Homo sapiens: one gene and its partner. The protein of the gene in region 1 interacts with the protein of each later gene in a pairwise test. Each region holds a gene or a part of one and is shown in the gene's direction. Other genes may lie near its edges.

The links.
Region 2: the proteins of TIMMDC1 (region 1) and CYP4F12 interact in binary tests that used the Homo sapiens proteins (3 or more experiments, as listed by UniProt).

The regions. Positions count from the first base shown.
Region 1 is NC_000003.12:119,517,913-119,523,276, forward strand, and holds part of TIMMDC1 (complex I assembly factor TIMMDC1, mitochondrial isoform 1 precursor), read left to right. Parts: intron 1-5,364.
Region 2 is NC_000019.10:15,692,379-15,697,742, forward strand, and holds the end of CYP4F12 (cytochrome P450 4F12), read left to right. Parts: intron 1-3,557; coding exon 3,558-3,691; intron 3,692-3,782; coding exon 3,783-3,847; exon of another isoform or gene 3,848-4,051; coding exon 4,052-4,134; intron 4,135-4,529; coding exon 4,530-4,707; 3' UTR 4,708-4,796; downstream 4,797-5,364. UniProt on the Homo sapiens protein: A cytochrome P450 monooxygenase involved in the metabolism of endogenous polyunsaturated fatty acids (PUFAs).

The DNA.
Region 1 (5,364 bases):
GAGCCGTGATTGTGCTCCAGCCTGGGCCACAGAGCAAGACTCGGTCTCAAAAAAGAAAAAAAGTGACTTTTTTTTTTTTTTTTGCATACATATGTAAGTAAGACACAGCATGTTAAGTCTCCACAAAAATTCTATTTCTTGCTGTAGATGCAGAGGAATTAGGTGGACAATGGTTGTTCATGCACTGAATGCCACTGAGGAACATGAAAACTTTCACCTATTGCATCTAATCATCTCCTGGGATGCAATTTGTGGGATAGGGCAATCAGACTGATAGCTGACTTTGCACAGATTCAATATGTAAGATGAATATAACAGGCTGCCATCTAGTGCTCCTGAGTACAAATGATTTTCACTAGTTCACCTTCCTGGGTACCTAAGACAGCATTGGCTGCTGCTGCTGTTGCTGTTTTGGTATTATAATTGGATAGATGAGAAATCATTTTTTTCCAGTGTTTTCATTTGAAACCTCCATTTCTGCTAACCACACACACACAGACACACACACGGAAATTCTTAAGAGCTGTAGGTCCATCATCCAAGGACTTAAGTGCTATATGAGAAGAAAAGCATTGAGGTTGCAGTGAGCTGAGATTGCGCCACTGCACTCCAGCCTGGGCCACAGAGCAATACTTCATCTCAAAAAAAAAAAAAAATTAAAAAAGTAAATGAAACATTAAAAACTGCAGAAGTTTGTCAGTGATTTAGAGATCAGTGATTTTGAGATGGAAAAGCTTAAGAATGGCTGGCTATGGCCATTCTAAGGTCATTCACCTGGAGTCTTCCACCACTGGCAACCCTGCCAATTCTAGTGGCTGAGCTGCCACGTGCACCCCCTGAAGACTGGCTCATCCAGGGTCCACTGCCACCATTTACCTCCCCCCATCAGTTTAACAGCAGATTTGCCAGCAGAAACCTTACAAGTCAGGAGAGAATGGGATGATACATTCCAAGTGCTAAAAGGAAAAAACAAACAAACAGACAAACAAAACCCAAAAAACTCCTGCCAAGAGTATTATACCTAGCAAAGCTATTTTTCCAAAATGAAGGAGAAATAGTCTTCTCAAGACAGGCAAACACTGAGGGAATTTATCACCACTAGACTGCCTTATAAGAAATGCTTAAAGAACTCCTACATCTGAATGCAAAAGCACGGTAACTACCATTATGGAAACGTGAAAGAATAAAACTCACTGGTAGAGCAGATACAGAAAGGAATCAAACCTTATAATTACAAAAATCTACCAACCATGAAAATAAGAGGGGAAGAAAGGGGAACAAAGATTATACAAAACAACCAGGAAACAGTTAACAAAATGACAGGAGTAAATCCACACCTATCAATAACAATGTTGAATATAAACACTTTAAATTCCCCAATTAAAGATTTAGAGTGGCTGAATGAATAAAAAAAAGTTTAAAGACTCAACTATATATACTGACTACAAGAAACTCACTTCACCTGTAAAGATACAGATAGGCTGAAAGTAAAGGGATAGAAAAGGATGTTCATGCAAATGGAAACCATAAATGAGCAGGAATAGCTATACTTATGCTAGATAAAATAGGCTTTAAATAAAAAACTATAAAAAGAGACAAGGTCATTATATAATGGTAAAGAGATCAATTCAGCAAGAGGAAATAACAACTGTAAATATATATGCACCCAACACCAGAGCATCCATATATATATATATCTAAACAAATAATATTAGAGCTAAAGGGAGAGATAAACCCTAATGTAATAATAGCTGGGGACTTCAACACCACACTCCCAGCACTGGACAGATCATCTAGACAGAAAATCAACAAAGAAATATCAGACTTAAACTGTACTGTAGATCAAATGGATCTAGCAGACATTTACAGAACATCACATCCAACAGCTGCAAAATACACGTTTTTCTTATCTTGAAGTGTTCTTCAGGATAAACCATATGTTAGGCTACAAAACAAGTCTCAACAAATTTTTAAAGATCAAAATAACATCAAATATTTTTTCAGACCACAGCAGAATAAAACTAGAAATCAGTAACAGGAAGGACTTTGGAAACTGTGCAAATACACAGAAATTAAATAATATGCTCTGGAACAACCAATAGGTCAATGAAAAAATTAAGAAGGAAATTTAAAAATTTCTTGAAACAAATGAAAACAGAAACACAACATACCAAAACCTATGGGATACAGCAAAAGCATCACTAACAGGGAAGTTTATAGCAATAAATGCCTCCATCAAAAAGTAGAAATGTTTCAAATAAACAACCTAACACTGCACCTCAGGGAACTCGAAAAGCAAGAACAAACTAAACCCAAAATCAGAAGGAAATAAATAAAAAGATCAGAGCAGAGCTAAGTGAAATAGAGACTTAAAAACAAACAAAAAAACACAAAAGAAGAACTAAATGAAAAGTTGGTTTCTTGAAAACAAAATCAAGAAACCACAAGTTAGAAAAAAGACCCAATTAAGGTAAAAAACAAAAAAGGAGACATTACAACTGATACCACGGACATAGTCATATCATTAGAGATTATTATGAAACAACTGTATGCCAAGAAATTGGAAAAGCTACAGGAAATGGATACATTCCTGAGCCCCTATAATCTATCGAGATTGAGCCAAGAAGTAATAGAAAACTTGAACAGACCAATAACAAGTAACAAGATTGAACTGGTAATAAAAAGTCTCCCAACAAAGAAATGTCCAGGACCACATGGCTTCATTGCTAAATTCTGCCAAACAGTTAAAGAAGAATTAAGACCAATTCTCAAACTGTTCCGAAATATTGAAGATGAGAGAGTTCTTCCAAACTCATTCTACAAGGCTAGCATTACCCTTATACAACAACAAACAGACAAAGGCTCATTAAACAACAACAACAACAAAACCTACAGGCCAATGTATTCTACAAAACAATCCTTAACAAAATACCAGCAAACCAAATCCAAGAGTACATCAAAAAGATTATACATCATGAACAAGTGGGATTTATCCTAGGGATGCAAGGATGGTGCAGCATACACAAATCAATAAATGTGTTACATCATATAAACAGAAGGAAGGAAAAAAACCATATGATCATCTCAGTAAATGAGAAAAAGCATTTGGTAAAATTGAACACCCCTTCATGGTAACACCTCCCAAAAAGTTAGGGGTAGAAGGACTATTTCTCAGTACAGTAAAGGCCATATATGTCAAACTCACAGCTAATATCATACTGAACAGGGAAAAGTGAAAAGCTTTTCCCTCAAAGAACTGGAATGAAATAGGAATGCCCACTCTTACCAGTCTTGTTCAACATAGTATTAGAAATCCTAGCCAGAGCAGTTAGGCAAGAAAAAGAAATAAAGGGCATTGGAGGCCAGGCACGGTGGCTCACACTTGTAATTCCAGGACTTTGGGAGGCCGAGGCAGGCGGATCACTTGAGGTCAGGAGTTCGAGACCAGCCTGACCGACATGGTGAAACCCCATTTCTACTAAAAATACAAAAATTGTCATGGTGCACACCTGTAATCCCAACTGCGTGGGAGGCTGAGGCAGGAGGATTGTTTGAGCCTGGGAGGTGGAGGTTGCAATGAACCAAGATGGTGCCACTGCACTCCAGCCTGAGTGACAGCATGAGACAAAAGAAAATTAGGCACAGTAGTGCATGCCTATAGCCCCAGTTACTTGGGAGACTGAGGCTGAAGGATCCCTTGAGCCCAGTAATTCAAGGCAGCAGTGAGCCATGATTGTGCTACTGCACTCCAGCCTGGGCAACAAAGTGAGTCCCTGTCTCTTTAAAAAAAAAAAAGTGGGCGGGGGAGCTTGGGGGGAAACTTGTATTTCTCAAAAAATACCTACAAGTGCTAACAAGTATATGAAAAAGTATTCAACATAACTAATCAGGGAAATGCAAATCAAAACCACAATGAAATGTGGTTTGGGGACAGTTTGGGAAATTGGAGTGATATTTATCCCAATTAGAATGTCTATTATCAGAAAGACAAAAAATAAATTTTGGCAAGGATGTAGAAAGAAAAGGGAACTCATATACTTTTGGTAGGAATGCAAATTATTACAGCCTTTATAGAAACAGTATGGAAGTTCCTCAGAAAACTAAAAATAGAACTACTGTAAGATCCAGCAATCTTCCCTACTAGGTATTTATCCAAAGGAAAAGAAACCAGCATATCAAAGAGTTATCTGCGCCCCCATGCTTATTGTAGCACTATTAATAGCCAAGGTATGGAATCAACGTCAGTGTCCATCAACAGATGGATGGATAAAGAAAATGTGGTATATATCCACCATAGAATACTATTCAGCCATAATAAAGAATGTAATCCTGTCATTTGTGGGAACATGGATGAGCCTGGAGGACATTGTTATGTAAAATAAGTCATACACAGAAAGATAAATACTGCATGTTCTGTTGCTCATGTGGGAGCTAAAAAATGGGCTCATAGAAGTAAAGAGTAGAATTATGGTTACTGGAGGCTGAGGAGGGGACAGGGAAAGGCATAAGAAGAGGAGATTTAAGGGATTGATTAATGAATACAAAATTATAACTAGATCGGAGGCATAAATTCTAGTGTTCTGTGGCACTGTAGGATGACTATAGTTAATAATTTATTGTATATTTTCAAGTAGCTGGAAGAGAGGATATTTGAATGGTCCCAGCAGTATGAAATGATAAATGTTTGAGGTGATGCATATGCTAATTACCCTGATTTGATCATTACACATTGTATATGTACAAAAATATCACTTTGTACTTCATAAATATGTACAATTATTAGTATCAATTTTAAGACAGATGGATAAAAACAACTTGAATCATAGTAATGAAAGAATACTTTGGCAGAATGAAAGTGTCAAAATTGTATAGCATATACACGTATGGGTGTTTGTGTGTGTGTGTGTGTGTGTGTGTGTGTGTGAGATATTTCTAAGGAGAGTTAATAAACGTTTAAGTGTCTTGTATGTGCCTACTTCTTCGCTTGAAAATAATACAGGAAAATCAAACAAATTGAGAGTCAAAAAAATTGCCTCAATGAGCAGAAAATGTAGAAAACTGACTATAGAGATATAGAAGAACAAATGACCAAATCTGTGAAGAGTTGAGAAGAAACTTTAATCCCGATAATCACTTAAGGAAGACACTAATACTTGATTTAGAAACAGAACTGATCTATTATTTGGAAATTAGTTTTTAACTCTTCATAAATATAAATCTATAGTTTTGTTCTATCTGACTTTTCTCTACCTTGGATTACCATTGTTATAGCCTTTGACCAGTTCCTAAAAGGTCTGGTCACAGAGTTTAAGAGTGGCAGGGTACTTACATTCCCCCAGCCCTGGGAGCAAGAGGACAGCGAGA
Region 2 (5,364 bases), on another chromosome or scaffold:
AATCCAGGTATTTTATATTATTATGACTAGTATCTTTTCTTTTATTATCTTTTCATTTGATGGTTATTTCTATATGGTAAAACTAATGATTTATGCATATAAATTCTATGCCCAGTGAACATAGTATATGCTAAAGATGGTATCTGTATCAAGAGAAAAAATATAGATAATTAAGTAAAAGCTCTTGGGGCAACTGGAAAGCCTTCTGGAAAAAAGGCAACTGAACCTTGTTCTCATATCTTATGACAAGATAATGTTCAGATTAATCATTTTTTTCTAAAAGAGTCCTAAAAGCTCTAGAAGGAACCATGAGAAAATTATTTCATAGCGCCAGAGTAGGGATAACCTTATTTTGACGTAAGTCCCAGGGGCTATGAAAAAGTGATAAACTGTTAAATGAGAGAAAAGATACACGCCAGCCACGGTGGTTCATGACTGTAATCCCAGTACTTTGTGAGGCCAAGGTGGGCAGATCACTTGAGATCAGGAGTTCAAGACCAGCCTTGCCAAATTGGGGAAACTCCATCTCTACTAAAAATAAAAAAAAAAATTAGCTGGCTGTTGTGGTGAATGCCTGTAGTCCCAGCTACTTGGGAGGCTGAGGCAGTAGAATCACTTGAACCAGGGAGGTGGAGGTTGCAGTGAGACAAGATTGTGTCACTGCACTCCAGCCTGAGCAACAGAGACTCCATTCCCTCCCCCCATCAAAAAAGATACAGAATAGTGTCTACAGTAGATGGTGTGCTCCTATATAATTTTTTAAGATGCTTAAAATCAGCCCAGAAAGCATACATTAAAAAAAATAATAACCTGGCAACGTGTGGGGAGAAGTAAATGGCATTGGGCCATAGGAGTGAATTATGTTTTATAGTTTTCAAATTCTGAACCAGATAATTGTAGACGGTATGAAAATTTTAAATAGCCACTGCAAAAGAAGAAAGATTAAGCAGAGAATTCAGCTCCTTTGCTTGATCTTAAATGTTTATAAACGTTTTCCAGTGGGGCCTCTAGTGTTTTCTAAGTATAAAATCACTATCTGCCAAAATGATACATTTACTACCACATTTCAAATTGCCTGACTCTCGTGTTTTTTTGGCTGCATAAATGTCTTCTTTTGAGAAGTGTCTGTTCATGTCCTTCGCCCACTTTTTGATGGAGTTGTTTTTTTCTTGTAAATTTGTTTGACTTCATTGTAGATTCTGGATATTAGCCCTCTGTCAGATGAGTAGGTTGCGAAAATTTTCTCCCATTTTGTACGTTGCCTGTTCACTCTGATGGTAGTTTCTTTTGCTGTGCAGAAGCTCTTTAGTTTAATTAGATCCCATTTGTCAATTTTGGCTTTTGTTGCCATTGCTTTTGGTGTTTTAGACATGAAGTCCTTGCCCATGTCTATGTCTTGAATGGTAATGCCTCGGTTTTCTTCTAGGGTTTTTATGGTTTTAGGTCTAACGTTTAAGTCTTTATTCCATCTTGAATTAATTTTTGTATAAGGTGTAAGGAAGGGATCTAGTTTCAGCTTTCTACATATGGCTAGCCAGTTTTCCCAGCACCATTTATTAAACAGGGAATCCTTTCCCCATTGCTTGTTTTTCTCAGGTTTGTCAAAGATCAGATAGTTGTAGACATGTGGCATTAACTCTGAGGGCTCTGTTCTGTTCCATTGATCTAGATCTCTGTTTTGGTACCAGTACCATGCTGTTTTGGTTACTGTAGCCTTGTAGTATAGTTTGAAGTCAAGTAGCATGATGCCTCCAGCTTTGTTCTTTTGGCTTAGGATTGACTTGGCGATGCGGGCTCCTTTTTGGTGCCATATGAACTTTAAAGTAGTTTTTTCCAATTCTGTGAAGAAAGTCATTGGTAGCTTGATGGGGATGGCATTGAATCTATAAATTATCTTGGGCAGTATGGCCATTTTCATGATATTGATTCTTCCTACCCATGAGCATGGAATGTTCTTCCCTTTCTTTGCACCCTCTTTTATTTCATTGAGCAGTGGTTTGTAGTTCTCCTTGAAGAGGTCCTTCACGTCCCTTGTAAGTTGGATTCCTAGGTATTTTCTTCTCTTTGAAGCAGTTGTGAATGGGAGTTCACTCATGATTTGGCTCTCTGTTTGTCTGTTATTGGTGTATAAGAATGCTTGTGATTTTTGTCCATTGATTTTGTATCCTGAGACTTTGCTGAAGTTGCTTATCAGCTTAAGGAGATTTTGGGCTGAGACAATGGGGTTTTCTAGATATACAATCATGTCATCTGCAAACAGGGACAATTTGACGTCTTCTTTTCCTAATTGAATAACCTTTATTTCCTTCTCCTGCCTAATTGCCCTGGCCAGAACTTCCAACACTTTATGCAGCCAAAAAACACATGAAAAAATGCTCACCATCACTGGCCATCAAAGAAATGCAAATCAAAACCACAATGAGATACCATCTCACACCAGTTAGAATGGCAATCATTAAAAAGTCAGGAAACAACAGGTGCTGGACAGGATGTGGAGAAATAGGAACACTTTTACACTGTTGGTGGGACTGTAAACTAGTTCAACCATGGTGGAAGTCAGTGTGGCGATTCCTCAGGGATCTAGAACTAGAAATACCATTTGACCCAGCCATCCCATTACTGGGTATATACCCAAAGGACTATAAATCATGCGGCTATAAAGACACATGCACATGTATGTTTATTGCGGCACTATTCACAACAGCAAAGACTTGGAACCAACCCAAATGTCCAACAATGATAGACTGGATTAAGAAAATGTGGCACATATACACCATGGAATACTATGCAGCCATAAAAAATGATGAGTTCATGTCCCTTGTAGGGACATGGATGAAATTGGAAATCATCATTCTCAGTAAACTATCGCAAAGACAAAAAAACCAAACACCGCATGTTCTCACTCATAGGTGGGAATTGAACAATGAGAACACATGGACACAGGAAGGGGAACATCACACTCTGGGGACTGTTGTGGGGTGGGGGGAGGGGGAAGGGATAGCATTAGGAGATATAACTAATGCTAAATGATGAGTTAATGGGTGCAGCACACCAGCATGGCACATGTATACATATGTAACTAACCTGCACATTGTGCACATGTACCCTAAAAGTATAATAATAATAAAAAAAAAAAAACAAATTGCATGACTCTCCTTTTTTCCCTTGCCTAATTGCACTTGCTGGTATCTCTAGCATCACGCTAAATAAGAGCAAAACATTGGATCTGGGTATTTTGTTTGTTATTCATTTGCATTTGAGTTTGCTTTCTTGCCATAGACAATATTTATTTTTATGTGAGTTTGTTAATTTTTTACCGCTGGCTTCTGGGTGTTTTCCTCAGAGTATTTATTTTTATCTATTTGGCTAAATTTTCTCTGGTACTTTTCTAATTCTCTGCTTCTCTAATTGTTTTCTGCTTTTTAAAATTCTCAAATGTTTGATCCCCGTGGAGTTTATTTTGTGATAGGGAGAAAAGGTCTCATTTGCAAATAGAAAAGGTGGAGAGTTGTGTATTTGTTCCCTTGATAATGACTGGGGCTGGGGTGTTTCCTTAGGGACGACCTGGCCCAGCTGCCCTTCCTGACCATGTGCGTGAAGGAGAGCCTGAGGTTACATCCCCCAGCTCCCTTCATCTCCCGATGCTGCACCCAGGACATTGTTCTCCCAGATGGCCGAGTCATCCCCAAAGGTGCCCACAGCCTCAGGGGGAGAAGCCTCCCGGGTAGGAAGATGGTTCCCTCAGGGGATCCTTGTCCTGACTGCCCCTTTCTCTCCCACAGGCATTACCTGCCTCATCGATATTATAGGGGTCCATCACAACCCAACTGTGTGGCCGGATCCTGAGGTGCTGCCTTCCCCATTCACCACCACCACCCCCATCCTCTACTTTTGTGTGTGTGTGTGTGAATTCCAAGGTTCCTAGTGGAGGGGGCAGGGTTTTGATGAGGAAAATCCAACATCACCTCACCCCAAAACACACACAAGTGTCTCTCCAAGGCTGCTGGACATAGGAAATCCCACTGGCAAACCTTCTTTGTCTCACCTGCAGGTCTACGACCCCTTCCGCTTTGACCCAGAGAACAGCAAGGGGAGGTCACCTCTGGCTTTTATTCCTTTCTCCGCAGGGCCCAGGTAAGAGCGCCCTGTGTCTGAGGCAGGGATGGGATGATGGGTGCGGGAGTTAAAAAAAGGGGGACGTTGCAGATGGTCCCAGTTCCAGCTCTCCTTCCCTCCATTCCTTCACAGTTTATGGGAAAACGTCCATAGAATGGGGATGAGTAGGTCCTAGAGGGGTCCGCGGAGTGCTCAAAATCCCCTTCTCCATCTGCTGGTCTGAGCTGGGAGCTGGAGTCAGGCCCAGTCTCCGGGACATACAAGCCCACATGGGAGTCCCAGGCACGCTTAGTCTTTCTCTCTCTCTCTCAGGCTGAGCTGGGTGCAGTTGGGGGTCCCAGGCCAGGTTCCTGGGTTGATGGGACCCAAATGCGGGTCTTGGGCACAGTCACAGTCCCCACTCCCGCCTGCAGGAACTGCATCGGGCAGGCGTTCGCCATGGCGGAGATGAAAGTGGTCCTGGCGTTGATGCTGCTGCACTTCCGGTTCCTGCCAGACCACACTGAGCCCCGCAGGAAGCTGGAATTGATCATGCGCGCCGAGGGCGGGCTTTGGCTGCGGGTGGAGCCCCTGAATGTAAGCTTGCAGTGACTTTCTGACCCATCCACCTGTTTTTTTGCAGATTGTCATGAATAAAACGGTGCTGTCACCTCTGCCTGGGCCTCACTGACAGCCTGCAGGGGGCTCTTGGGGACTGGGAGGCTTCAGGGAAGGGGCCTAACCTGGGTGGGTTAGGCGGGATGTTTTCCCTGAAACCAAGAACCTGACTGCCTCTTTGGCTGAGCATAGGGCCTCCATGCTTATAGCAGGGTCTCTCAGAGCCCAAGTATGGACTTTATCCTGTGGACAATGTGGAGCCATGGGAGGTTTTTGAGCAGGAGAGGGACCAGGATTAAGAACGGATTTAAGAGGTACGACTGAGGCTAAGTGAGAAGCAACCATAGGGGCAGATCCTTTCTTTTGGTCTGGGAGTGTCCCAAGACCGAGGTCCCTGGCCAGTTCAGAACACAAGGATAGAAGGGTGCAGCTTATACCCTGGCAGGCTCTCAGGAGTTCTGTTTCCTTTCTTGCTAATGTCCCACCCTATGTCTCCCCCTTCCAGTTGATCGCTTTTGTGACCCCTTTCCCTAACTTCAGGCAGCTCCTATTTTTCCTCTTTTGAGCCCTCTGACTCTGCCCAGGCTGCTTGTCCATCAGCTGCTATCTGAATCCTCCCCCTACTCTCTTCTGCTATGTGCCAGGCACTCT